2 separate regions of the Homo sapiens genome follow, and region 1 is linked to region 2. Evidence: fine-mapped expression QTL. A gene starts in region 2. The other region holds a variant in brackets. All regions are shown on one strand. Distances are between the middles of the regions.

Region 1 (15,094 bases), 31 kb after region 2:
TTTGTGTTGAGAGTTTCTGGACATTTTGAGGCAAAAGCTAGATCGTACGAGGGAATAAGAGATTCTACAGAAATAAATAAGGGTTAAAGTTTAAAATGAAACTGGGCTGGTGCAGTGGCTCATGCCTACAATCCCAGCACTTTGGGAGGCTGGCGTGGGAGGATCACTTGAGGCCAGGAGTTCAAGACCAGCATAGGCGATATAGTGCGACTCCATTTCTACAAAAAAGTTTAAAAATTAGCTGAGTGTGGTTATGTGTGCCTGTGGTTTTAGCTATTGGGGAGGTGAGACAGGAGGATCACCTAAGTCCAGGAGCTCGAGGCTACAGTGAGCTGTGATCGTGCCACTATACTCCAGCCCAGGTGACAGCGTGAGAACTTGTTTCTAAAATAAAATAAAACTGAACTAAAGATTCAGTGAGGCCAGAGGGCTAATAATCTTCCATGGAAAGAACCACACTAAAGTTAGATGCATTGATTGCAAGTTGACAAGGTGGGTCATGTTTATGTGACTTCTTTCAATAGTCTTCATTGCCTGAGAGCCAGAATAGAAGAAGGGGATTATACTTTAGGGGTAGAGATTAGTGTCAGCGATTGTGGGGAGAGGAGTCCCCTCTCAAAGAGGACAGTTTGAAGTGTCAAAGTGTAGGGTTCAAGTTGGGAGAGAAGTCCTGAGCCCCAGGAAGGCTTGTGGCCTGGGCCAAAGAGGAGTGAGAGTGCTGTGAGGTTGGATTGAGTAAAGATCCTGGTTGGAATTTGAAGAAGTGACAGGTTTCCTATGGGAGTCTTGGGATGGCTGGACTGAAAGAAGCAGGAGGTTCTCAGGACGAGCTGAGCATTAGGAGAAGTGAGAATGCTGACTTAACCTTTTCCAAGAGAACAGCACATTCAGCTCAGTGCCATGAAGCCAGCATTGGGGAGGAGTGAGAGAGGAAGTGGGCTGACTCATTCCTGGGAGTAAAATGGGGCTACTTGGGCCAGCTGAAGAGGCTCTTGTTTCTGGGGAGTGGAAGTTGGACCCAGCAAGGAGAACAAGAAAGTCTTAATTGCTTTTCTTCTTTGTGCACTCTGAATGACCTTATAACAGAATGCCTGAAACTGGTTAATTTATAAAGAGGCTTATTTTGGCTCACAGTTATGGAGACTGGGAAGTCCAAATTGGGCAGCCTTAACTTCCATTGAGGACCTCCTGCTGCCTCATCATATGATGAGGTGGAAGGGAGCAGGCATGTGCAAAAGGGGCAAGATAGGAGGAGCAGCCTTGCTTTATAACATCCCACTCTCATGGCAACTGGTCCAATCCCACGAGAGTGAGAACTCATTCCGGCGAGAATTAACCCAGTCCCAAGAGAGTGGCATTAATCTGTCTTAACAACCTAATCACCTCTTAAAGGCCCCACCTCTCAGCACTACCACACTAAGGACCAAATTTCCAACACATGAATTCTGGGGGGATACACTCAAACCATAGCAAATGGTGATGATGATGATGATGATCATCATCATCATCGTCGTCGTCGTCGTCGTCGTCGTCACTTGGGGGCAGATCTGCCCTTTTGGAGAGGCTAATTGAAATATTTCAGCTGGAGTAGAATGAGAAGAGTTGAAGGATTATTACAACTTAATGGCAGAAAAGAAAAATAGCTTATTCATTTTGAGATTAGATGGGGATTTTAATGCTGTTTTGATGGCATTAGTTCCAGAGATGCAGGAATGCCCATGTTTCTTCCCTGAAGTCACACTTGACCTCTTCTGTGAAATTCAGAGGTAACTGTGCCCAAGGGAAGAGCAGAATAGAAGTTGTCCTGTCACTATGTAAAAAGCTGTGCAAGTGCCCAATCTTCCAGTTCAGAGCCCTCGTAAATACTGAGTTTCGAGCATGTCAGATGGACTTCGTAGGTCCTTCTGCTCCTTTCTACCTATTCTTCCCTAACTTCTTTTTTTTTTTTTTTTTTTTTTGAGACAGAGTTTTGCTCTGTTGCCCAGGCTGGAGTGGCACGATCTCTGCTCACTGCAAGCTCCGCCTCCCGGGTTCACAGCATTCTCCTGCCTCAGCCTCCCGAGTAGCTGGGACTACAGGCACCCGCCACCACACCCGGCTAATTTTTTTTTGTATTTTTAGTAGAGACGGGGTTTCACCATGTTAGCCAGGATGGTCTCGATCTCCTGACGTGATCCGCCCGCCTCGGCCTCCCAAAGTGCTGGGATTACAGGCATGAGCCACCGCGTCTGGCCCCCTAACTTCTTAAAAGCCAGCAAGCCGGGCCAGACTGGACCAGGCGGGTGCAGTGGCTCATGCCTGCAATGCCAGCACTTTGGGAGACCAAGGTGGGAGGACTGCTTGAGCCCAGGAGTTTAAGACCCACCTGGGCAACATAGTGAGAGCCCCCTGCCCTCTACAAAAAATTTAAAAATTAGCCAAGCATGGTGGTGTGTCTGTATTCCCAGCTACTCAGCAGGCTGAGGTGGGATATCACTTGAGCCTGGGAGATTGAGGCTGCAGTGAGTCAGGATTACACCACTGCATTTCAGCCTAGGCCACAAAGCAAGACCCTGTCTCAAATAAATGAATAAATAAATTTTTTTTTTTAGAAAAGGCAACTCAGGCCGGGCACGGTGACTCACGCCTGTAATCCCAGCACTTTGGGAGGCTGAGATGGGAGGATTGCTTGAGGCCAGGAGCTCAAGACGAGCATGGTCAACATAGGGAGACCCCATCTCTAAAAATTTTTTTTAAAACACAAGCAAGCTAACAATTTTAAAACTCAAAAGAGAAATAGCTAGGCCTCAGTGTTCCTAGCCAGCCCCATGGAATCAAGAGAGTGCAGCTGATCAATGTACATCAAAAAGCCAGGCCCTACCTGGGACTGGCACAGCATGGGGACAGCATGCAGGAGGTGCATGGGACAAATGGCACCTGGGTTTGGGCTTGAGAGGCATAGTGAAAAGACCCACTAGCAGTCACTTTCCATTTTCTGTTTCTGACTCCAAGCAAGCAGAGCAGCAGTTCTTCTTCCTGGGTGGGACAGGTTAAGAAGACCAGTAAAGGGTCTCTCCCTCGCCACTTGTAGCTACACTATCTTTCCTGTTCACATTCAGGTGTGTCTTCCTCATGAGGACTGAGATGAAGAGGGGTCAGACTAAAGCACTGTTTGCACGGGATTTTTTTAAATAGAATTTGTTATAGCGATATCAGTAAAGCAAGAGTTATGCCAAATGCTCATAGTAGGAGTTTACTTCGACCTCTTTTTTTTTCCCCACTCAATACTGCCACCAGTTAAGACTTAGACTTCTCAGGGAAATCCATTTGCTCTGTTAAGGAAATTAATAGTAAATAGAAATATGTTAGCTTATTTTAATAGATCAATGTTAGTGTCAAGGTTTGTCTGCAAGCAGTGAATGAATAATTATAAATAGCTTTCCTAAAAAGAATTGTTCTGCCTTTGTGTGTGTACTTGGAAACATAAAGTCACATTTTAAAAAAATTTATTTTCACGAAACAGACAACATTTTTTTTCTCAGAAAGGAAAATGAGATGATAGCTTTGCTATGCTTAGAAATCCTAAAGCTACCTTTCTGGTGGGAATATAAATTGGTTAACCTCTAAGGAGGCAGTCTGGCAGTATATAATTGCAAGTGCATATACCTTTTGATCATTAATAAAATTTGTTTCTATAATTTCATTTCCTTAGAGAAAAGGTAAGATAAGAGGGAAACAGCAAAGACTCCCAAGTCTTTGGGATTATTGTGTACTACATTTGGAAATTAAGTTTTCATTTCTTAAGTAAGTTATTGAAAGAGGGAAGTCCTGGCCGGGCACGGTGGCTCACGCCTGTAATCCCAGCATTTTGAGAAGCCGAAGCGGGCAGATCACGATGCCAAGAGATCGAGACCATCCTGGCCGACATGGTGAAACCCCATCTCTACTAAAAATACAAAAAATTAGTTGGGCGTGGTGGCTCCCGCCTGTAGTCCCAGCTACTTGAGAGGCTGAGGCAAGAGAATCACTTGAACCTGGGAGGCAGAGGTTGCAGTGAGCTGAGATCGCGCCACTGCACTCCAGCCTGGCAACAGAGCAAGACTCTGTCTCAAAAAAAAAGAGTGAAGTCCTAAATCAGTGGGTTAATCCATCTGTTCTTCCAGGACAGATGATATTGAATAATGAAATGTTTGTCAAGCAGAGAGAGGACTGAGGATAATTCAGTCAAAACAAACATTTGGAGCAAAAATTTTGAGGTGTGAAAGAGCCTGGCCTGTTCCCCAGGAAAGAGGTCAAATCTGGCTAAAGCAGTGAGTCCAGGGGAAGAGCTAAGGCAGTTGAGAAGTAGGAGGGGTAGCTTTGTGTGACAGGTAAAGAAGATGTCATTTTCTGAGCCAGTGTGCATCAAACTTCACTACCAGATGAATGCAGAATAGAATTATGTACACTCTGCAAAGCAGCGGGGGAGGAGAGTTAGTCTCAAGCCTCACTTGTTTTTCCACTTCTTTGTTTTATCTTTGACCTGTGCAAATTTTACATTCTATTCCTGAGTGAATGTTTGGTATGACATGAAAGAGATATTTCAAATTACCTAACATTTTATAAATGCAATGCTATTCATACATACTGCTTTGAACCCTGGGGCTATGGCTGTAGGCGGTAAAGAGCCTGTGAAGTATTTTCAGCAAGGAAAGTCATGTCATTATATTGCCGTACTACAGACGGGTGGAGTGAAGGGGAAAAACTGGAAGGAGGGAACAGCTTTTGCCAGGAGCTCAATACAACTTACCTCAGTGACCTGTGGATGGGTAGACAATGAGGAAATAGAAGCCCACAAGGACTGCACTGCTAGTACCTTATGAAGGCAGGAATTTACTCCTGGACTTTCTGACCTTAAGGCCTGTACTCTGTCCATATGCTTCCCTGCCTCCAGGAGGCAGAACCAGAAGGCTCTTGCCATAATCCAGGTAAGAAGTAAAGAGGACCCGACCAGGGCAGAGGTGAGAGGAGAGGCAAGGAGAGAACATTCTAGAGAGATGAAAGAGAATTGAGTGACTTCCCAGATATAGTAGGGAGAAGGAAAAACAAGGAAAATTCCAGGTCCGTGGCTTGGATGACTGGATGGATGATGTTCATCATTAACCGACTTAGGATACTTCAGAGGAAGAGCAGGTTTAAGGTGGAGATGGGAAAAGAATGGTGTAGATCCTCTGATTGCATAAGAAAACAAGACAGCAGAAGCAAAGGCATGGCTTGTAATGCCCAAGATAGACATTATGGGTGGGCCTCAGAGCCCCCGAAGACTGCATTGTAGCAGCCAAAACAGCAAAGAGCTCATCAGGGCTTGGGGACTGTCTTTTAGGTTTGTTTGAAGAGACTGTACCAGAGGGCCAGGGAGGAGGAGAAAGGAATTGAGCTGGCCTATCTAGAGCAGCTGCATGGCCAACACGAAGCCTGGCTTATTCACAAGACAACGAAGTAAGTGGGGAGAAAAGAATGTATCAGAGACAGAGACCTGGCTCCCAACAGCCAGTTGTTAAAAACAAGTTCAGCATGCAGCCCCCTGTAGGAAGGTTCAGAATATACTGGAAATGGTTGGAAATGTCAAGCATTTTCCAACTCAGAAGTTTAATATTGCTGGACACCGTGGCTCACGCCTGTAATCCCAGCACTTTGGGAGGCTGAGGCAGTCACCTGAGGTCAGGATTCAAGACCAGCCTGGCCAACATGGTGAAACCCTGTCTCTACTAAAAATAGAAAAATTAGCCAGGTGTGGTGTCAGGCGCCTGTAATACCAGCTACTCGGGAGGCTGAGGCAGGAGAATCGCTTGAACCTGGGAGGCAAAGATTGCGGTGAGCCGAGATCGCACCACTGTACTCCAGCCTGGGCGACAGAGTGAGATGCCCAGAAGAAGTTTAATATTGAATATAATCTTTACATTCCAAGGGCCTTTTTATTAGATTGTATTTCTCCAGCTTTTTCTTTGTTTCTTAACATTTCCCTAGACTGAACATTGTGATTGATGGTGATAGTTGGCTCAGCATGAAGGGCTGAAAATGTTAGAGAAATTGTCAGTATTACTAAGTTGGCATTCCTGGTTTCTGCCTGTCCTCCCTTTAGGCTTGGTTTGTTGTCCACTTAAAATGTTTGGTGCTCTGACTGTTTGTTAGTATCACTCTCAAGAATGAAGAGAAACCTCAACCTTTCTGTTTCCGGCCAACTTTATTGAATTTGTTTTTTTAAATGCAGTTTACATGCAGTTTCTTTGAAAAGTCATGTTGAATTTAGATCTGTTCTCTGAGTAAGACTTGGCGAGTATGTGAAACTTGACTCAAGTTACATTTCTTTTTTTCTGTCCCCCAAACGTTCACGCTTCTTATAGGCTCCACTTTGAGGCTCTGATGAACATTCCAGTGCTGGTGTTGGATGTCAATGATGATTTTTCTGAGGAAGTAACCAAACAAGAAGACCTCATGAGAGAGGTGGGAAGGACTTTAACTCCTGTTTTCTGGTGGTTTCCTTTGTTGTACTTTTATCTTTCTGGCCTTTGCTTCAAAGTTCAATATCATGGGTCTTGTGCTTTGCATCTCACATTGCATTTCACACTCCAAGGCCTATGGAATCTTGTGCAGATTACAAATATCCCTATTCTCTAAAGTATGCTGGACTAATAATTGTTAAATAATTGACTTGTAACATGTGCTTGCCAGCTGACTTTCTTCTCTAAGGCATCCTAAAACTAGGGAAATGAGACTACTGGATTCTATTCCCAGCTCTGCCACTTGATGCTATATGACCCTGGGCTGCCCACATTTCTTCTCCATGCCTATTATTTTCCTTTCCTCACAAAAACCTCATGGGCTTGGCTGCATATGCATTGGGGGTGGACCATTGAAAATTCTGTTAAAAATGTGAAATTAAACTTCTGATTTTCTCCTTCCCACAGGTAAACACCTTTGTAAAGAATCTGTAACCAATACCATGAAGTTCAGGCTGTGATCTGGGCTCCCTGACTTTCTGAAGCTAGAAAAATGTTGTGTCTCCCAACCACCTTTCCATCCCCAGCCCCTCTCATCCCTGGAGCACTCTGCCGCTCAAGAGCTGGTTTGTTAATTATTGTTAGACTTTGCCATTGTTTTCTTTTGTACCTGAAGCATTTTGAAAATAAAGTTTA[C/CTTAAG]TTAAGTTATGCTTGTTTTTCTAATTCAGTTGCTCATTTATTTCAGCATGTATCTCTTGGTGCTTGCTCTAAATTCACCTCTAGACTAGTGTATTAGTCCGTTTTCACACTGCTATAAAGATACTACCTGAGGCTGGGTAATTTCTAAAGGAAAGAGGTTTAATCGATTCACAGTTTCGCATGGTGGGGGAGGCCTCAGGAAACTTACAATCATGGCAGAGGGGAAACAGGCACATCTCACATGGTGGCAGGTGAATGAGCGAGTGCAAGAAAGAGCAGGGAAACCTGCCTTATAAAACCATTAGATCTTTTGAGAGCTCACTGCCATGAGAACAGCATGGGGGACCTGTCCCGGTGATACAGTCGCCTCCCACCAAGTCTCTCCCTTGACACCTGGGGATTACAATTCAAGATGAGATTTGGCTGGGGACACAAAGCCTAACCATATCAACTAGCAATTTTCAAATTGCTCCCAGAACTCTAACCCAAGCCCTACCTGCCATGCATGAAGAAGGGAAATAAAGTGGCTCAAGAGTGGGTGGGATCTTAAATGTGAGCCCCCCAGAGCAGGAAATGGAGCATGAACTCCAGGAAGCTTCTTTATCTCTTCCCATCTGCCACTCTTGACATAGGGGACAGGTGTGGGGAACTTAAACCCTTGTCCTAGAGCTAAAGAACCTGGCCAAAAGAAAAAGGTAGAAAACAGCAAGAACCCAAAAGTTAAGCATCTGACATTTAAGATTGGCCCGCCCGGCACTCTATCTTTGTCTAAATACCTTACCCAATGACTTCCAGATAACGTTAATGGAGTGGATCTCTCTGTGCAGGAAAAAAAAAAAAAAAATTTTTTGTTGTGCTCTTTACCCTTCAAATAGAATTTATTGTTAAGGGAAGAAAAATACATGGCTCTATAGGATTGAAGTGCTCCATTGCCAGAAGCCTGCAGGTCCATGATTCACAGGAGCAGATCTGCACTGAACCCTTGACGGTTCTGCAGGTACACAGGAAGATGAATGATCTGGGGACGTAAGAGTGCCCCAGAAGACAGAAATCTGTGTTTCTGTCCTTTATGCTTTGGGGAAATGAATGTGAGATTGGTTTCTAACAAATACATAGGCCAGGCAAGGTGGCTTACACCTGTAATGCCAGCACTTTGGGAGACCAAGGCAGGTGGATCACCTGAGGTCAGCAGTTCAAGACCAGTCTGGGCAACATGGCAAAACCCCATCTCTACCAAAAATACAAAATTTATCCGGGCGTGGTGGTGTATGCCTGTAATCCCAGCTACTTGAGAGGCTGAGGCAGGAAAATCGCTTGAACCCAGGAGGCGGAGGTTGCAGTGAGCTGAGATCACACCACTGCACTCTAGCCTGGGCGACAAGAACGAAACTCTGTCTCAAAAAAAAAAAAAAAAAGTAATGTTTTAATATAAAAGTATGGCAATTTCCTTATCCTACTTATTTAAAACATTTTAATAGCTTTATTGATACATAATTCACATATTATACAATTCACTCATCTAAACTGTACGATTCAGGCCACACACAGTGGCTCACACCTGTAATCCCAGAGATTTGAGAGGCCAAAGTAAGAGAATTGCTTGAGGCCAGGAGTTTGAGACCAGCCTAGGTAACATAACGAGAGGCCAGCTCTCCAAAAAAGTAAAAATTAAAAAAATAAGCCAGGTGTGGTGGAGTGAGCCTGTAGTCCTAGCTACTTGGGAGGCTGAGGTGGGAGGATCGCTTGAACCCAGGAGGCTGCAGTGAGCTATGATCCTGCCACTGCACTTGTAGGTGACAGAGCGAGACTCTATCTCTTAAAAATAAAGTGTACAGGCCAGGCGTGGTGGCTCACGCCTGTAATCCCAGCATTTTGGGAGGCTGAGGCAGGTGGATCAACTGAGGTCAGGAGTTTGAGACCAGCCTGGCCAACATGGTGAAACCCCGTCTCCAATAAAAATACAAAAAATTAGCCGGGTGTGGTGGTGTGTGCCTGTAATCCTAGCTACTCAGGAGGCAGAGCAGGAGGATCGCTTGAACCCAGGAGGCAGAGGTTGCAGTGAGCCAAGATCGCACCACTGCACTCCAGCCTGGGCAACAAGAGCAAAACTCCATCTCAATAAATAAATAAATAAAAACAAAAAATAAAGTATACAATTCAATAGTTTGTAGTATAGTAGTCATGGGGCTGTATAACCAATACCACAATTCCAGAACATTTTCATCACCCCAAAAAGAAAGCCCATACCCCATCTCCCCCAAGTTTCCCTGCTGCCAACTCCCAGCCCTAGGCAACAACCAGTCTACTTTTGTCTCTGTAGATTTGCCTATTCCTGCAATTTCATATGAATAGAATCATACTATGTTGTCTCCTGTAACTTTTTTTTTTAACTGAGCATAATGTTTTCAAAGTTCATCCAAGTGGTAACATGTATCAGTACTTCGTTCCTTTCTTCCCCCACAACAGTCTCACTGTGTTGCCCAGGCTGGAGTGCAGTGGTGCAGTCACAGCTCACTGCGGCCTTGAACTCCTGGGCTCAAGCCATCCTCCTACTTCAGCCTCCTGAGTAGTTGAGACTATAGGTGCACACCACCGCGCCCACTAATTATTTTATTTTTAGTAGAGACTGTCTCACTATGTTGCCCAGGCTGGTCTCCAACTTCTGGTGTCAAGTGATTCTCCTGCCTCAGCCTTCCAAAGTGCTAGGATTACAGATGTAAGCCACTACACTCTTCACCTAGTTTTAAAGCCTGAAAGTCTACAAATTCAGCATCTCTATTGGTAAATATTGCCTTTTAGAAAGTAAACGTTGGCTGGGCACTGTGGCTCAAGCCTGTAATCCCAGCACCTAGGGAGGCCGAGGCGGGCGGATAACTTGAAGTCAGGAGTTCGAGACCAGCCTGGCCAACAAGGTGAAACCCCATCTCTACTAAAAATCAGAAATTAGCTGAGCATGGTAGTGCAGGCCTATAGTCCCAGCTACTCGGGAGGCTGAGGCAGAAGAATTGCTTGAACTGGGAGGCAGAGGCTGCAGTGAGCCGAGATTGCACCACTGCCCCCTAGCCTGGGTGACAGAGCGAGATTCTGTCTCAAAAAAAAAAAAAGTAAATATCCTCTAGGATAGTGCGGGCCATCAACAGTGTAACCTAGGTGATATTTGTCATTTTCCAAATTTGTAGCCGAGATCATCTGTAGAGAGTAAACATATTAATGAGCAGCAGTAATTTTGAATCTTAAATTGTGGGGGAGGGACAAGTAGGTCTGGGTGGAGCCTGTAAGTGTGCAGATTAGGACCACAGGAAGGCAGGCTGAAACCTTGGGCACCGTGGGTTTTTAAAGTGGACGCTAGAGAGTGGAGGTCACACTAAAACGGTCCCTACTCTACACTCAGGCCAGTCTGGATGGCTGTTATTCTTGGTTTAGGCCAACTCCCAGCGTCAAAAAATTTGGATTAACACATAAGAAATAGCTGCATTTCTTTCTGGCTTACGATGTGGTAAAACCTGCTGTTCTGGAACCTGAATATTACCTTGATGGGTTTATAACAAGGATCAAGGTTGTGAAAGTTCTCAAACTCTCAGAAGGTGATAATTTCAAGTAAAAGAGATTGTTTGTTATATGCAAATACCAGAATCACAGAGGAAGTGATGCAACGAAATAACATGCACTTTAAAATTTTAATACTATTTAACCTTCTTCAGCCCTCACTTAAATAGCAGTTTACATTTTCTGAACCACTTTCTCCTTCATGGGTCTCTCCTGGCTCCCCTACATTTGATGCCTCCCCTTCTGCTTCCTGGGCTGCCATCTTTTTCTCTTTTCCTCGAAAGTGTTGGTGTCCCCAAGGTACCCTTGGCTCATTTCTGTCTTCGTCCACTCCCTCTGCGTGATCTTGGATTTGTTTTCTATCACTGCCATTATCAAATTACCACAAATGTAACAGCTTAAAGCAGCATACATTTATTATCTTACAGCTCTGGAGGTCAGAACTCTGACATGGGTCTCACTGGGACAAAATCAAGTTATCAACAGGGCTGCTTTTCTTTCTGGAGTTTCTAGAGGAGACTCCGTTTCTTTACCTTTTCTGTCTTCTAGAAGCTGCCCACATTCCTTGGCTTGTGGCCCCTTCATCTTCAAAGCCAGTAGTGTTGCATCTCTAACCACAGCCAGGAATCCTTCTCTGCTTTCAAGGACCCACGTGATTACACTGGCCCCCTCTGGGAAATCTAAGCTGCGGGGTGGGAGGGAGGCTGCTATTCTGCTTTCCGCAGATCTCAAACACTATCATGGCTCCTACTATTCTCATGGGGTGAAGACTTCTTATGAACTTGGAAATTTTATGGAAAATGTGAATCATATGCAAGAGGGAATGGTATCAAGCACCCCTGTACCCCCATACCCACATTCTAGCCCAATCAGCCTAAGATCACCAGAAACGAACCTTGAGTTTGAGAAGGTCAGATTGCAATGAGGAAGACCACATACCAGAGGAACTGTGGGGCATCTCACCAAACAGGAAAATATACCGTTACAGGATTTTAAGGAAAACTAGAGTTTTGGTAAAATTGAATGAAGCATTGTTTGGATAGGTGCAAAGCAAAGCAGGACTGTGTATAAAGGAGTCTGTTCTGAACTGTTCGGTGAACTCAGGTTTGTTTCCCTAGAAAGTACAAAGTTAAGACAAACATGGAATTTGTGTTCAGAAGCTCCTTACGTGAAACTCTGAACCTGGCTTGGAAACCAAGACAACTTCTCTGTGTCAAAGTGACTTAGAATCTTCTGGCCAAAAAAAAAAAAAAAAGGAATTTTTACTGATAACATTTAACATTTCACACAGCAAAGTTTTTACTGATAACATTTAACATTTCACACAGCAAAGTTTCTGATAGTTCATGATTTTAAAGAACAAGGTTTCTCTATGAGTCAGAAAGCAGTAGTCACACAAGGAAAGGGGTCATTATGACACTTTACGGCTACAACGTGCTCGTGGGAGAAATACTGTTTCATGGTAACTTTTGTGACTGGCTTTAGCTGTGTAATGTCCTCCCAGCCTGTTGAGTCGCAGGGCAGCTTTTTACCTTCTTAGCATGAGCCAACTTCGACTTTCTCGCCAACTTCGACTTTCTCGCCAACTTCGACTTTCTCACCCACTTCGGTTATCTACTCAGAACCAATCTGGTTTCACCTACAGCCTACCCCCACTCTCATTATTCTGAAGCAAATCCCAAACAGGAGGATGTCTTTTAAAGCTAGAGCTATATCAAACTATGGATTTCACAACCCGGATCCCTTATGCTCAATGGGTACAAAACAGTTCTCCCCACCCGCATACCCACCACCAACCCTACCCCAACCCAGCCAGCAAAGCCATTTCCCCTGCTTCTCCATTCACCCCGTTGGCCACATTAAAAACCTTGGTGTTATCTTTGACCCCCCACTTACACTCATTCTCAACAAATTCTGCCTATTCATCTCTGAAATCTTTCAAATCTTCTCTGCACCTGTTTCTGTCTCTCTAGTTGAAGGTGTAGTGGAAATTGTGGTTGACTCCCCAGCATTCATCCCACCTCTCCTCCTCTTCCATAGCAGTCATATGGTCCCCATTGTAGCAGTGGCCATGCCTAGGAATGGCAGGAATGGCCCCTCCCCTGCCCCCCAATTACTACTACCAGTAATCATTTCTTCCCCAAGCCACATCAACTAAATGATGTATAAAAAAGAACAGTGGTTGCTAGGTCAGGTCACCTGCCCCACCCCTGCCACCAGAGAGCTGCCCCTCAGCCTCTCCTATGTGGAGGTATGAGAGCTACCATGTTTTTATAACCCTATCTCCCATCACTCCTACCATAAACCCCACGAGACCACCCATAGCTTCAGATGTGTTTTCCCACATGACAAAATGTTTCTCTCTCTCTCTTTCTCTCCCACCCCCCACCCACCACCCCAAGCTTTTACACTGGAAGAACTACTCACCCTGCCAGGCCCAAGCCCACCATTCCTCTCTCTGTGGAGCCCTTCCCTCACCCCACACCATGTCCAGTCTTTGTGCCCTTGAGCACCCTGTTTATTAAACTTCTGTCAAACGTGTCATACCTGAATGAAAGTTGTCTGGAGACATCTCTTTGATGTCCTTGGCCTTGACCTTCTTGACATAGACCATGTCTTGGTCATTTAGTACAATGCCTGGCATTTATTTATTTATTGCTGTTTCATGAGTGCCTAACATAGACTTTTAAATAAAGAAATTATTGACTGGAGACACGCTCCGCCCTTTCTCAGGTTCCTGGGTTATTTGTGAGCTCTATATTACGATCATCAATTGAGGAAGTCCCTTCTGTGTACTAAGCACTGAGAATATGCAAGAAATTTGGGGCCTGGACTCTACTCTTAAATTGTCAAAGGAGTTGATGATTATCAGATGCCTACTGTGTGCCAGCTACCCTACTGAACACTTTCTAAATGTTATTCAACCCTCTCAATAATCCTGTGAAGGAGGTTTAAGGTGCCAGTTTTTACCAGTGAGGAAACTGAAGCTCAGAGTTCAGTAACTCAACGAGAGTCCCACAGTAACTGACAGCGCTGGGACTCACACCTAGGTCCATCCTGACTCCAGAGCCTGTTCTCTGCATAACACCAAACCATTACATAAGGGAGATAAGACTAGATTTTCAGAAAAGAAGGCAAGCAAGCATTTCCTTGGCTGCCTGTCTGGATTTACCAGCCAAATTTTGTAGCCTGGGCAGGAAAACCTAGTTTGCCAGCACTGCTAGGTGGAGGCCACCAGGTGCATCTTAGCTGTGCCTTTGGCCCCTGGGTCCCTGAACAGGTGGAGAGATGTTTCTGGGGGGCTAGATTTTCTCTTCTCAGCAACTGCACCTTCATAAAGTGCCCTTCAGGCACTAGCCATTAGAATGTATGTGGAAGCTTGGTGAAGGTTCTGGAGTGTCTTTACAGATGCCTTCTACTCCACTTCCCAGCTCACCCTTTATGTTGCTATCAGATGATTTTCTTAAAACACCTTTATTTTTTTTAAATTTATTTTTATTTTTATTTTTTGAGACAGCGTTGCTCTGTCGCCCAGGCCAGAGTGCAGTGGCATGATCTCAGCTCGCTGCAACCTCCGCCCCCTGGGTTCAAGTGATTCTCCTGCCTCAGCCTCCCACGTAGCTGGGACTGCAGGTGCACACTACCATGCCTGGCTAATTTTTTTTTTTTTTTTTTTTTTGGTATTTTTAGTAAACACCACCATGTTGGCTAGGCTGGTCTCAAATTCCTGACCTCAAGTGATCCACGCACTTCAGCCTCCCAAAGTGCTGGGACTGCAGGTGTGAGCCACCACACCCAGCCTAAAAACCTTTAATCATGTTAATATTCTTCTTTAAAAATGTTGGTGGCCGGGCGTGGTGGCTCACACCTGTAATCCCAGCACTTTGGGGGGCTGAGGTGGGCAGATCATGAGATCTGGAGTTCGAGACCAGTCTGCATAGAGAAACCCCATCTCTACTAAAAATACAAAATTAGCTGGGTGTGGTGGCGCATGCCTGTAATCCCAGCTGCTTGGGAGGCTGAGGCAGGAGAATCATTTGAACTCAGGAGGCGGAGGTTGTGGTGAGCAAAGATGGTGCCATTGCACTCCAGCCTGGGCAACAAAAGCGAAACTCCAACTCAAAAAAAAAAAAAAAAAGTTGGTATCCAAATGCACAGTGGTATCCTGAATTGGATCCTGGAACAGATCAAGTTCGTTAGTGGAAAATACTAGTGAAATCCAAATCAAGTCTGGAGTTTAATTGATGTAACTTGTCAGTTTTCACAAGTGTACCATGTCATGTGAGATGTTAGCATTAGGGGAATCTGGATGAGGGATACACAGAAACTCTGTGTTGTCTTTGCAATTTTTCTGTAAATCTAAAATTATTCCAAAATAAAAATCATTAAAACAA
Region 2 (15,094 bases):
GATCCTCACATTGGGCTGGTGCACCTTTCACCTCCCCACCTAGCAAAGTCCCAGCCTTCGTGCCCCCATCAGATCCCACCTGGTCCATGAAGCTTCCCAGACATACCCATTTGGAGACAGTGGAGTCCAGTGGTTAAGCGCAGACACTTCAATGCCAGACATTCCTTTCACCCTCCCAGCACTTGATCTCTGTGGGTGGGGTGGGATGGAGGAGCGGCTTTCATAAGCCCTTAGGGGATTTCTGTGTGAGGACCAGAAGCAGACCCTGAAATGAGGATTCCCTGCAAACGACTTATTAAAGAAGTGCTCTGAGGACAGCTGGTAAGCAGAGTGCGGGGGAGGGGGGCGCAGAAGAGGAAAGGGGAGGAAATCTGTCAAGGGGGTAATTGCAGATAATGTCCTGGAGAGGGCAGCTTCAGCCTGGCCCCGCCCACTGGGAGCTCTGGAGTCTAAGGTTAGCCTGGTGAAGGACAGGGAGCCAGGCTTTCACAGTCCCACCTGCCAGTGGTTGGTGAGGGCGCTCCCTGGGAGGACTGAAGTCCTAGGCTTTCCACCTGTATCGGCAAAGGCCTCCTCCAAAGAAGAGCTGCAGGCTCTGGTTGCTGGAAGAGAAGGCACAGGAGGAGGCGGGAGCGATCTGAGATGTAGGGCACCGACACTGCGCTATAGAGGGGCATCCGGACCTCCACATGGAGAAGGGCAGGCTGCCCAGACTGTTCCCACAAACCCCCCGCACCCATCTGACCTCCCTTCCCCATCCTTCCACCCCTACTCCAGTCTTACTCTATTTCAAGTTTAAAAAATGCTGACCTAGATTCTTCAATGGATATGGAGTTATCCACTGACAGAGAGAGGGACAGTGGCTTGAGGAAAGTGGAAATCCAACTGGAAGTCTATTAAAGATCGACAAAAGTCAGGTGTGATGGTTCACACCAGTAATCCCAGCTACTTGGGACGCTGGGGTGGGAAGATCCTTTGAGCCTAATTCAAACCAGCCTCTGACAAGCGAGACCCTATCAGAGAGAGAGAGAGAGAAACAATGTCCCAGGCACTGAGGGCCTAAGAAGGCAGCCATTACTTATTATGTGTTATATAATGTCTATTGGGTGGTAACTGTGTGGCAGGTGTGGCAGGTGGATTCTCTCTCTTAATCCTCACCCCCAGGTCACTGGAATCCAGAGCCCACACTGTTAACCACCTTTTGATACGTCTCCCTTTATGATTAGGTGTATCAATACAGTTCATTCAGGGGAGCAGAGCCATTATGGGTATTATGGGAATAAGGGCTTTATTACAGGAATGACACTTTCCCCAAAGACTGAAGGAGCTGGAAAAGTGAAAGTCTGCAAGGAACTGTGGGATACTCCAAGAGGAGTCACAAATGGGTGGAGGACTAGGTGAAACCTATCTGCTGGGCACCTCTGTCTGTCATAGCATCTGACTAGAAGATTTCCACAGAGGAATGGCTGACACTCCCACTCTGCCTTCCAAATCTCACCCCAGGTCCTCTTTTGGCCAACTCTAACTCAGAGCCTTGTTGGTAGGGCGTTCTGGAAGTGTACTTTCCAATTTAACCAAATCGATTTAGCACAATCCAGCACATTATAAAATCTTCAAAGTAGGTGAGATATAGCTGGCTAAAAGTCCAGGCTGCAGAATAAAGTTTGGGCCACATTTTTGTATGTTTATCTCCCTTTTTTAATGGCTGCATGACATTTTAAATAATATTGGTCAGTATTTTATGTATACGGTAGCATTTAGAAACACTGGAAAAATAGTAAATCCTTCAGAGCTGCACTTCAAGGACTAAGCAGAGTGTCTGGCATGCAGTAGATGCTCAGCAAATATTGGATGAATGAATGGATGCTGAATGACTAGAGTTCTTGCAGGACAACATTTTGCCCAGGACAAAATCGCCCAGGGGCAGGAAGTGGCCTCGTTCTCCCAGGTAAGGGGGAGGTAATTCTACTCACCAATATGCCACTACTTTCAGTCTTCTGGCTAGCACCCAAATGGGATGAAAACTCCGTGTTTACTGCTTCGAAGAGGAAATGATCACCACCTCTTTGGGGTGTCTTCTTTCCTCATGAAGATCCCCTTAATTGTACTTCCTCATGTGCAAAAGTGGGGCCCCAACCCTCTTCCTTGGCCACAGCTGATTGAACCATGATTAGATACCTGAACACAGCTGGGCCAATCAGATTCTCCCTTCTGGGAATTTGGAATTGGGACCTAAATAAATAAAAAACATTTAACAAAACAAGCATAGATAACTAAAGGGGGGTAGAAAGATTATTACTAATGAATTAAGATAACTGACAGGCAACTTAGGCAAAAGATATTTTAGTTTCTTACATTACACTCTACATCAAAAAAATTTTGAATGTTTTTAGAGGCTGGGTGCTGTGGCTCATACCTGTAATCCCAGCACTTTGGGAGGCAGAGGTGGGTGGATAACTTGAGGCCAGGAGCTCAAGAGCAGCCAGGCCAACATAGCAAAACCCCGTCTCTACTAAAAATACAAAAAATTAGTCGGGCATGGCACATGCCTGTAATCCCAGCTACTTGGGAGGCTGAAGCATGAGAATCGCTTGAATCTAGGAGATGGAGGTTGCAGTGAGCCAAGATTGCCCCACTGCACTCCAGCCTGGGCAAGAGACTCTGTCTCAACACAAGAAAAGAAAAGAAAAGAAAAGAAAAGAAAAGAAAAGAAAAGAAAAGAAAAGAAAAGAAGCAAACCACAGAGATAAAATATTCACAAAGGACTCATCCAGAATATTTGAAGAATAAGACAAGCAAAAGACAACCAATAGAAAAATGGACATAAGACTTCAACAGAGGATACTGAAATGACCAATAAACATACAAAAAGATGTTTGACTTCATTAATCAGCAGGAAAATGCAAATTAAAACCACAATAAGTTATAATTACACACAGCAAAATGGATAAAATTTAAAAAGCTGACAATATCAACTGTTGGTAAGAATGTGGGAAAACCAGAACTCTCTCTCACTGATGATGGCAATGTCAACTAGAACAAACACTGTGGAACTATCTACTATTTGGGAATATCTATCAAAGCTGAGCATATATATGTAACTTATTACACAGCAGTTCCAGTCTTACTTATACACCCAAGAGAAATGCATACTTCTTTTTACCAAAAGACATGTACAAGAATATTTACCGCAACACTATTCATTATGGCTCAAATCTAGAAACTTCCGAGTACATTGTGGTATAGTGACATTGTGGAATACTATACAGCAATGAGAATGAGTGAACTACAACTAATACATTCAACCTGGATGAATCTCACAGATATGTTAAATAAAAGAAGTATTTACTATATAATTCCATTTATATAAAGAAAACGCAAAACTAATCTCTACTGTTGAAGTCAGGCTAATGGTTATCTTTGAGGGATAGTAACTGGCAACGAATATGGGGGATTCTGGAGATGCGGATAATGCTGTTTCTTGATCTGAATCCAGGTAACAGTCATTCCATTTGTGAAAACTTCATTGAACTGTACACTTACAACACATCCTCTTTTCCTCACTGCACAACACATCCTCTTTTCCTCACTACATACTATGCTTTACCATAATTTTTTTTTTTTTTTTTTTTTGAGACGGAGTCTCGCTCTGTCGCCCAGGCTGGAGCACAGTGGCGCGATCTCGGCTCACTGCAAGCTCCGCCTCCCCGGTTCAGGCCATTCTCCTGCCTCAGCCTCCTGAGTAGCTGGGACTACAGGAGCCCACCACCACACTCCGCTTTTTTTTTTTTCTCTCTCTTTAGTAGAGACAGGGTTTCACCATGTTAGCCAGGATGGTCTTGATCTCCTGACCTCGTGATCCGCCCTCGTCAGCCTCCCAAAGTGCTGGGATTACAGGCGTGAGCCACCGCGCCAGGCCACTTCACCATAAAATTTTTAAAAATAATTTTTAGGAGCTCTGTTACTGGTGGAGGGTGCCCAGGTTCTTGACATTTTGAACAAAGAATTGGACAAAACGTACAAAGCAAGGAAACAATGAAGCAACAAAAGCACAGATTTATTGTACATCAAAGAACACTCCTTGCGGTAGGAAGGGCCCAAGCAAGCAGCAATTACAGAATTTTCTGGGGTTTAAATACCTTCTAGAGGTTTCCCATTGGTTACCTGGTGTACACCCTATGTAAATGAAGTAGTGGCCAGCGATCAGTCTGATTGGTTGCAGGAGGGGACCAATCAGAGGCTGAAGTAAAGTTATGAAGTTATACCCCATGCAACTAAAGACTTGGCCTGCCACCAGCCTGACTGATTGCCCGCGGGGACCAGTCAGAGGTACTTTCAATTTTTTATCTGCCACCCAGAAGAGGGATTAGCTTCTGGTCCTTTTGTTACTTGGGCTAGAAAGTTGGGGTTTTCCTTTTGATTTAGTTCTAGGAAGTCAGCCTAAATCGGCCTTAGGTTCCCTGTCTCCAGACCCTATTTTCCTGCCTCGTAGCTTTTAGGAGATTAATGCCTGCCTGCAGACAACTTCCTCATTTAACTTTCACAACACCCCTGAGGCAGCAAGATCCTGGCGAGGCAGAGAGCCTCTCAAGCTTTTTTGGATGAATATTTTCCAAGTCTGAGTTTACATAGGTAAAGAAATGTAAGCAGTTTTTTTTTTGTTTTTTGTTTTGTTTTGTTTTGTTTTGTTTTGTTTTAACAGAAGTGGCTGCTGGAGTGGAGATGGGAATGGGTAGGACTTTAGCCGCTCCAGTAGCCATTAACGCCCCACCCTGGTTATCCTTAAAAAATTCGATTAAAAAAAAAGTTCTTAATATATAAACATGACCTCAGCCATCCTATATATACATCAACATAAGAAAAAGGTCCCGTGCTTTTTATGGGAACAGCTTCAAGACAGGTATCCCAGCCCCCGGCCCCTCCCCAGCCCCCTTGCAATCAGATCCTTGTCTTCTAAAACCTGCCACACCTAAGAGCGCTGCCTGAAGGCCGGTTTGGCCTGTTGACTCCTGGTTTTGACTGTTGGTGATTTAAGCGATTGGAACTGGAAGCACCATTTGACAACATTTTGTAAATCATTACTTCTGAGGTTGTTATGACGACGGGGTGTGGCAGTCCGGCTTCACCTGTGGCAGCAGCTTAGGTCCCTGCCCTCCTGCAGAGCACACTTCACCGACAGCAGGACTCAGGTTTTATACAAGTCTCTACTCGCCATTGCTTACGTCCAAGAACCCAGCCTACCAGGTTTAAACAATTTCCAGTCACATACCTGAGCCACCACCACCTTATCCTGAAGGGATTTTTGGGTATAATGCAAATCGATTGACCGAACATTTATTTACTTATTCAAGACACAAACTAAGAGATGGGGTGTAACTGATTATCTAATTTGTTAATTTAGTCAATAATATGCCAGCATTGTGCAGGGGAATTACAGGGAATAGGAAAAAGTTAAATTTGTGTAAATCATCAGATTGAGTCATTTTCCTACTTTAAAACTTCCATTTTCTTCCGATATTAAAATAAAAACCAGACAACAAGCACCTGGGGGGGGGGAAATCCCCTCTTAAAATTACAATTTCTATTTTTAATTTTGTCTTCAGTTATAAAATTTATTTTAAAGTTATACAAAAATGAAGTGGTTGGATTGTGGAATTACGTCTTTTAAAATGTTATTTGTCCAATGAACAAAAACCACTCGCACCGCAACTCCTTTTACTATCAAATTCTGCACCGTTGCAAAACTTCCTTCACTCAACGCTTCTTTACAAACATCGCGATAGCGGAGCGGTCTCTTGGGCGCACCCCGCCGCATGTTCAACCCCACCCACTTCCTGTCTGACGATCTCCTTACGTCAACGGTGCGCTGGAGCGAGTGAGCAGCGATACCTAGGGCGGAAGTGCTCTCGGCGGAAGTGATCGCTGTGTGAATCGTGGGTGGGATGGCCGCGGGCCGCCTCTTTCTAAGTCGGCTTCGAGCACCCTTCAGTTCCATGGCCAAGAGCCCACTCGAGGGCGTTTCCTCCTCCAGAGGCCTGCACGCGGGGCGCGGGCCCCGAAGGCTCTCCATCGAAGGCAACATTGGTAAGGGCCGGAAAGCGGCTGCCAAGCCTTGGCCTCCGCCACGCAGGCGACAGAGGCTGGGAAAGGAGCTGGGCCCGGAATGGCCTGCGTCTGATGCGGCCGGCCTCTTTTTCTGGGCTGCGAGGAGAGCCTTTCCCCTCGCAAAGTGCACTGTGTATCTTTGCCTCCTTGTTTTTAGGATATCGGGCCTCAGTACCCGCCCACAGGAACATATTTGTTGGGGCATAAAAGCCACGCAGTTAGTGGATAGGACAAGAATTGTATTAGCTGTTTGTAATAGATCGAAATTGAAGCGACAAGCGGGTGCAGTTTATTTGTTCTCCTAGATAGGGTTGCCATATTTAGCAGAAATTAAAAATAATATCCAGTTAAAATAGAATTTAAGATAACGAATAATTTTTAGTGTGTGTCCAATGCAATATTTGGGACATCCTTACAGCAAAACAACAACGAAATCACTCATTGAAAGTTCAAATTTAACTGTGTCCTGTATTTTATCTGGCAACCCTATTCGAAGAGAGTTCCTAAATTTCAGTCGTTCAAATACCACATTCACAATTTTTGCCCTGTGCCTGTGCTAGTTGCATAATAATTTCTTAAGGCTTTTCTTAGAAGAACCTCACTTTTTAAACTTAAAAACATGTATTAAATTAAAAATTATTTTGTTAAAAGAGTGAGATCCAGTATCTTGAATAAAAAGTAGTCAGAAAGCAAAATGAAGGCAAAGCATTTCGATTTAATATTAATAAATTCTGACTTGATACTTTTATCTACCAAGTCACTGAGCCCCTAAAAGGGGCTTAGCAAGTGTTGAGTACTGAAGACGTAGCAGCAAACTGAGAATTTCTTTTTTTATTCATTCAACAAATCACCTTTTGAGCCACTTCCATATGCCAGCACTGTTCTTGGCCTGGAGAATACAGCTGTGAATAGAACAAATAAAAATCTCTGCTCTCATGGAACTCAAGTAGGGAGAGATGGACAATAAACAACATAAATTAAGCAAGGTGAACAATATGTTAGAGAGTAATAAGTATGATGGAGAAAAATTAGGGATGAAGAATTGAGGGAAGTTTTTATTTTATTTTATTTGAGATGGAGTTTTGCTCTTGTTACCCAGGCTGGAGTGCAATGACACGATCTCGACTCACTGCAACCTCTGCCTCCCTGGTTCAAGCGATTCTCCTGCCTCAGCCTCCCGAATAGCTGGGATTAGGGGCACCCGCCACCACACCCAGTTAATTTTTGTTTTGTTAGTAGAGACAGGGTTTCACCATGTTGGCCAGGCTGGTCTCAAACTCCTAACCTCAGGTGATCCGCCTGCCTCGGCCTCCCAAAGTGCTGGGATTATAGGCGTTAGCCACTGCACCTGGCCGAAGTTGTCATTTTAAATAAAATAAGCAAGGCCTCACTGAGAAGGTGACATCTGAGCAAAAAACTGAAGATGAGGGAGCAAATCACGTGGATACCTGGGAGAAGAATCTTCTAGGCAGAGTGAAGAGCAATTGGAAAGGCCCTGAGGTGGAAAGTGTGTTCGGGGAATAGGAGGGAAATCGTTGTGACTGAAGTCGAGTGAGCAAGGATGGGAGGGAAATTAGGGCAAAAGCCCAAGGGGTGGCCAGATTTTATAGGCCTTATCATGGGTTTTTAATCTTACCGAGATGGGTAGCCATTGGAAGGTTTGAGGAGTCAAGTGACAGTTTTACTTAGATTATAAAAAGATCACTGTGGCTGATAACATTGAAAGTGAAGAGTGTTAAGTGGTATTGCAATAATTATAGTATTGTGAAAAGTGAAAGTGGTGAGACGTGATTGGATTCTAGTTATACGTTAACAAAAATTGAGTTACATTTTAAGTAAAATTTAACAGTGGAAGTGGTGAGAAATGATTGGGTTCTAGTTATATTTTAAGATAGGGCCAATTGGATTTGGTGACAGGTTGAATGCAGAGTGTAAGGTAAAGAGAGGGGCCAATGATGACTCCAATTATTTTGACTTGAGTACTTGAAAGATAGACTCCTGATTTTCTTTTATTTCCTCCTCTCCTTCTTCCTCCCCTCCCCTCGCTTCCCCTCCTTTGGTGTGGTCTTGCCCTGTTGCCAGGCTAGAATACAGTGATGCAATTGCATCTCACTGCAGCCTGCCTCCCAGGCTCAAGCCATCCTCCCACCTTAGCCTCTTGAGTAGCTGGATCCACAGGTGTTTGCCACTATGCGTGGCTAATTTTGTATATTTTTTGTAGAGACAGGGTCTCACTATATTTTCCAGGCTGGTCTTGATCTCCTGGGCTCAATTGATCCTCCTGCCTTGGCTTCCCAAAGTGCTGGGATTACAGAAGTGAGCCTTGGTTTTAAGCATGTTAGGTTTTTACATGCCTATTAATATCCAAGTAGAGGTGTTGAATAGGTAATTGGATATGTAAGTTCAGAATTAGGGTCTCCCCGGACTGGAGCTGTAAATGTAGGTGGTATTTAATGCCAGAGACTATGTGTTGATGGAAAGGACTGAGCCCTGAGCATGCAAATATTATGAAACTGGGGAGATGGGAAGGAATAAGCAGAGACTGAGAAGGAATGCCTACTGAGGTAGGAGAAAAAAACAAAAGAGAATGATATCCTGGAAGCCAAGTGAAGAAGGTATTCAGTGGGAGGGAATGATCAGCTGTGTTATACTGTTTAAGTAAATGAAGGTCTTTGGTGAACTTGAAAAGAACAGTTTTAGGAGTGTTAGGAGTGAAAGCCTAATTGGTATAGGTTCAAGGAGAATGGGAGGTGAGGAGAGTGGGTTAAGATAACTGGAAGTTTTTAGAAAGGGAAGTCATGGGGTGGTAGCTGAAATTAGAAGAGGGTGTGAGTGTTTAACATTTTTAATTTTCTTTTTGTGAAAAGAATTAGAGCATGTTTTTAAGTTGACAGAAGTGGTCTAGTGGAAAGGAGGAAAATTGGTAAATCGGGACAGAGGATAGAATTGCTGGAGTGATTTTTAAGCAAGAAAGAATGGAATCTATTGCCCAGTGGGAAATAATTTAGTCTTAGCTAGGAGCACAATTCATCCCTAGTAACAGGCGTGATGGCAAAATATATGAGCACCAACTTCAGAGGGTGTGGTGGGAACTTGGGAAGGTCTTTTGGTTGTGTCTGTTTTCAGAGTGAAGTAGGAAGAAAGGTCATCAGCTAAGAGTGAATGTAGAGACAGAAGACATGAAATACTCTAGTGAATAAGCAAGAGAAATGTTGAATTACTGGGTACCATTTAGGACCCACTTGGAGTTAGTGGTCATGAATTTAAAGTGAGACCAGTCACCATGGCTGTGTGTTTTTCTCCAGCCAAATCCGAAACATTGAAAGGAATGGGAAGGGAGAGTCCTGCTATTTGCCTGATGATGTTATTATTTAAATATGATGTTTTGTACTGTACTTTGAGAAACACACCCCTAAAGGAAGCTCTGTCCTCAAATCCCAGAGAGAGAACAGGGTATGTCACAAAGTAAGTACTTAGGACAGGTCATCAGATAAGGTTTGAACTCCCTCTATTTTCCTGACTTTTGCTTCTTAACCTTGTCAAATTTCTCTGCTTCTTCCTTGCTTTCTTGTGCAACAGAGGCTTACTGAGTGAGGACTAAGAGTCCACTCTCATGCTGAGCACAGCAGTGAATGGGATACAGCTCCTGTCCTTCAAGGAGCTCACAACTCACAACTAAGTAGGAGAAAACAGATTCGACATAATTTTCTTTTTTTTTTTCTTTTTTTTTTTTTTTTTTTGAGACAGAGTCTTGCTCTGGCACCCAGGCTGCAGTGCAGTGGTGTGATCTTGGCTCACTGCAGCCTCCGCCTCCCAGGTTCACGCCATTCTCCTGCCTCAGGCTCCCAAGTAGCTGGGACTACAGGCGCCCGCCACCATGCCCAGCTAATTTCTTGTATTTTTTAGTAGAGACGGGGTTTCACCATGTTAGCCAGGATGGTCTCAATCTCCTGACCTCGTGATCCGCCAGCTTCGGCCTCCCAAAGTGCTGGGATTATAGGCGTTAGCCACCGTGCCTGGCCGACTCGACATAATTTTCATACTGTGTGGTGAGATTTGTGATTGGGCATGGAAAGCCAGAATCTCTGGGGTAGGAATTCCCAAGAGGAAGAAGAGGGAAAAGTGTTTCAGCCATAGAAAGCAACATGTGCCAAGGTGGTGAAGCCTGAAGAAACACATGCAGTTTTTTGGGGGTTTTTTTGTTTGTTTGTTTGTTTTTTTGATGGAGTCTCATTCTGTCACCCAGGCTGGAGTGCAGTGGTGTGATCTCATCTCACTGCAACCTCCGCTTCCCAGGTTCAAGTGATTCTCCTGTCTCAGCCTCCCAAGTAGCTGAGACTACAGGCATGTGCCACCACGCCTAGCTAACACATGCAGTTTTAATGAAAGAGAAGTAGTTGGATGTGCCTGGAGTTGAAGGGACCTGTGAAAGGGTGGCAGAACAAGAGGTTGGAAGGGTGGGATTTGCCATATGTCGAAGAGCCTTGTGGACCATGCTAGTTTATCCTGTTGGCAGTGGGAGGCTGTTGAACACTTGAAGCCAGTGTGTGCCATGACCAGATTAATTTAAAAAAGGAAATTGTGTAGGATGAGAAAGAAAGCTCCATAAAACAGGCACTTTCTTTGTATATTTTGTTTGCTGCAGTACCCATAGTGCCTTGCATCCAGTTTGTTGGATGAATGAATAGATGAATTGGAACAGAGTTGAGTCTGTGCACTAGTTTTGTGGCTATTGGAGTAATTGGAGGGAGGAAAGATGCAGGCCTGAATAGAAGAACTGAAATGACAGAGAAGTGACGGTTTCAGAGAGATTTTGGAAGCGGGATTGACAGGATGTGGTGGCCACTTGGAGGTGAGGTAGGAGGAGGAGTAGAGGAGGGTGACACTGAGGTTCATGAGGATGGGAATAAAGGAAGAGGCGGTCTGGGGAGGTTAGAGTGATATGTTTTGTATGAGGTGCCTGTGAGACATAGAGGTGTTCTGAGACAGATTGGAATATGTGCCTGAGGTCAAGAGAGTCCGGAGATGGGTGCTGAGATTTCAGATGTGGAAGTTGTTGACTGGTGGGTAGAGGGGTAGTTGGTGAAGCCTTGGAAGTAAATGCAATTGCCCAAGAAAAGGGTGATGCGAAGTGGAATGGGAGGACCTAATCTGACTCTTTTTACTTTCATCTCCCACTACTCTTCATCACCCCACACACCCTGATGACTCTCCCTAGACAGAATTAGTCACTGCCTCCTCTGTGGGCTGACATAACATTTTGTACCCACAACTGCTGCAGCACTTGAGTTCTGCTGAGCTTGTTTGCACATTCACCACCTTCCTTGGGCTCTGACCACTCAGTGTGCTGTTCATCTTTGTATTGCTGACACCTAACCCCCGCCTTGACCCAGTGTACTCAGTACTGACCAGATTCTTGAATCCTGTGCTATGATATCCATGTGGAAGTTAGGCATTGGTACCCACACAGGGAATGTATTAAACTGCTTTTTAAATCAAGAGTGATCATCTTCTCTAATCACAGGTAACATCCTCAAGCAAATCAGAATGAGAGCACCCATTCAGGAAACCTGAACAGGGAAGGTGAACCCCTGTCCTGACCAAAATTGGGTATGTTTAGAGGGCTTTTCTTGTATTCCTTCTGCTCTAAGTCCTATTATTCTGATCCTGAAGGTGCAGACAGCGGCATGTAAGGAAAATTGATCAGTGAAGTAGCAACTAATGGCATCTAGCATGACTTACGAAGCCATATAAGATGTGTGATTGAAAGTCAAAAGCTTGGTACCTAGAACCCCTGAAAATCTAAAAAATAAAACACCTAGCCTGTCTTTTAAGACTGTTCATCCCTACAGTGTATTATCATCTTCTTGTGATTATCTTACGATTACAAGCGTAAATTGAAGAAAAGATTGCTGTATGAAATCTCACTGTCAGTGAGTCATCTCAGCATTTTTACCTTATTTTCAAAGACCCAACCAGAAAAGAGGAAACTCTTTTGCACTTTTCAATCAAGAAACTTAAACATAAAGCAGTAGAGGGCTTCCCTAATAACATGTTTCCTCCAGCATTCAAAATTAGTGACTTCACATCACTAATATGTGTCTTACTTATTTTAAGTATAAATGATTGGGCAAAGAATCCTTGGGAAAAAATAGCCTATTTATTTCAAATACTGTATAGTGGATTCTCTGTGCCTGTGACTCACCTCCTTCCCTCCATCACTGTTCTCATACTCAGGATGCAAAGGTTCAGTCTCTGTCTTCAAAAGTGAGCTCCCAGTCTAGCTGGAGGGAGTGATGAGTGAACAAATAATTACAGCGTAATCCTTTGGTAAACCAGAGCAGGCAGTAATTAACTCTGCCTAGAGATGAAGTGGCGCTGGAGAGAGTTCAAGGAGGCTTCACAGAGAAGGTGGCAGTGGAAAGCTGAATCACCTGGTAGGCAAGGCGGGAGGAGGGGATGTCAGATCAGTGAGGGTCTTTTGTGCTGAGCAGATGAGTTTGGATCATAGGAAGGTGTGAGAAAATTTTTTGCCTTTTTTTTTTCGTAAACAGTTTTTCATGAAAAAAGGTCATCAAAGTAAAATGTATTAAGTTTTTTTTAAGCCTGCTGACTGATTTTTATTAACTTTGCCTAGAATGCCTTTAAGCTTGGAGCCTGTATGATCCTGGGTACTCAGTCTTGGGGTTGGAATATAACTTGAGGGCAAGCTCTCAGCCTAGATCATCATTTCAGTTATAGTACTTACCTCTGAGTAGCTACTCCATAAACATTTGTTGATTGAATGAGTGAGTGAATGAATGCAGCATCAAATACAGTATCTGAAATAAAGACTTCAATTTTTTTTGGAAGGACTTTTTAAAAAAGACATTAGACAGTTTTATATGTTCTGACTTTGTTGGATTTTGGTAAAAGATTTCAGAATTGGATTTTTTTTCTCATGTTTTTCATCTTGTTCAGGAGATGAAAATGCCTAGAGGTGATAAATATAGGCTCCTATGAAATACAGCTGTATTAGACGTAAAATAATGGGATCTGTTATTTTGGGTATTACATCATATGCTATCTTGCTGCTAGATTTTAGCATTACATAGCTATGGTAGGCATTGTCAGTTTATAGAAAATTTTGTGGGGAGAAAAAAACATGCCTTAGAAAAAGATGAGTGGTAACAACAGAACTCTTTGTCCCAGCTTGTGGAATGAGAATAGTGGAGCTAATGAAAATCAACATGTTGAAGTAATATACTCTTAAGAAAGTACCTTCCACCTTTTTTTAAGGTTGTGGCAATATAACAACAGAGAACACTGGTGGCCAGGGTCCTAAGGGAAGGTTTGATGCTGCTTGTAAGTTCTGATACCTTCCAAAATTCATAATACTGAGAGTATATTGAAAGACAGGCCGGGCGATGTGGCTAACCCCTGTCATCCCAGCACTTTGGGAGGCTGAGGCGGGCAGATCACCTGAGGTCAGGAGTTCAAGACCAGCCTGGCCAACATGGCGAAACCCTGTCTCTACTAAAAATACAAAAATTAGTCAGGTGTGGTGGCACGTGCTTATAGTCCCAGTTACTCGGGAGGCTGAGAGGCTGGAGAATCAGTTGAACCCGGGAGTTGGAAGTTGCAGTGAGCCGAGATCACCCCACTGCACTCCAGCCTGGGCAATAGAGCAAGACTCTGTCTCAAAAAAAAAAAAAAAGGAAAGAAAGATAACAGCAGTGGCCCGGCGCAGTGGCTCACGCCTGTAATCCCAACACTTTGGGAGACCAAGGCAGGTGGATCGCTTGAACTCAGGAGTTTGAGACCAACCTGGGCAACATGGTGAAACCCTGTATCTGCCAAAAATACAAAAATTAGCCGGGCGTGGTGGCACACACCTGTAGTGGTCCCAGCTACTCAAGAGGCTGAGGCAGGAGAATCGCTTGAACCCAGGAAACAGAGGTTGCAGTGAGCCGAGATTGTGCCACTGCACTCCAGCCTGGGCAACAGCTAGACTCTGTCTCAAAAATAAATAAATAAACAAACAATATATTGGACAGGTCAAACATACTGGACAGCTACTCAGGAGGCTGAGGTGAGAAGATCACCTGAGCCCAGGAGGCAGAGGTTGCTGTGAGCCAAGATCACACCACTGCACTCCAGCCTGGGTGACAGAGAGAGACCCCCATCTCAAAAGGAAAGATAGCAGCTAAGCTGGGATCTAACTAAATTGCAGTAAGTCTGAGATAGTGATATCATAAGAGATTGGCTGAAGAAGTATGGCTTTCTGTAGACAGGGGTGTTCTGGTCACTAGGAGGAGGCTTCTGAAGCAATGGAGAGCAAAACACCACCACTCTTAGGAACCCCCTGTGAACATCTTGAAACATTTGTCAAAACAAACAAACAAACAACACCCCAGCAAGAAGGGAAAAAAAAAATCTATGATGATCAGGTATCACAGCACTGAGAAAGTTATACTGTGTCTGGCTTTAATAAAACCATGTAACTTTGAATTATTTTTTAAAGTAATTATTCCACATCTGTGGGTGGTACCTGGCACAGCTCAGTTCCAGTGGAATTAGTTTAAGAAATACTGCCCTGTAGTGAATTACCCAGGCTCTCCAAGGCTGAGAAACATGGATGGCACAGCTCTCAGGACATTTCACCACCATTTACTGTCATTGTATGCTGAAGCTGCCTTGTGATTACTAAACTAGCTTTCCAGAAGCCTTGGAATGGGGCATGGGTTACAGAGTACCCTGAGTATTAGGTGTTATTGTTCCAGTCATTGGAACTGTATATTTCCTGTTACATCTAATTTGTTGGCATTCTAGAATTAATGTGTTTAAATTGCATGAGTCAATTTCTTGGAGTCCTGACTGCTCTTAGATGAACTAATAGTGTCTGACCTCAGAGCCCTTCCTTTCCATCTGCAACAGTTTTTTAAGGTAATTGTTTTTAACTTTTAAAAAATATAAGTAATTCTAACAATTGTTCAATCCCAGCCATCTA

Evidence for each region.
Region 1: its variant is fine-mapped to the expression of DGUOK in lung (TOPMed, PIP above 0.99). The same link has a PIP of 0.9 or more in whole blood.

What each region holds. Positions count from the first base shown.
Region 1 is chr2:73,951,784-73,966,877 of GRCh38, forward strand. DGUOK (deoxyguanosine kinase) reads left to right here. Exons shown (of 7, transcript NM_080916.3): 5 at 5,342-5,457; 6 at 6,363-6,462; 7 at 6,927-7,163. The coding sequence ends at 6,953. It overlaps DGUOK-AS1 (DGUOK antisense RNA 1), which reads right to left. Exons shown (of 2, transcript NR_104030.1): 2 at 6,184-6,424. Among named protein-coding and RNA genes, the nearest start is that of DGUOK-AS1, 22 kb to the right of the region's middle. The variant C/CTTAAG (reference allele first, on the strand shown) is at 7,155.
Region 2 is chr2:73,920,969-73,936,062 of GRCh38, forward strand. DGUOK (deoxyguanosine kinase) reads left to right here and starts at 5,912. Exons shown (of 7, transcript NM_080916.3): 1 at 5,912-6,084. The coding sequence starts at 5,943. RefSeq lists an enhancer at 5,944-6,213.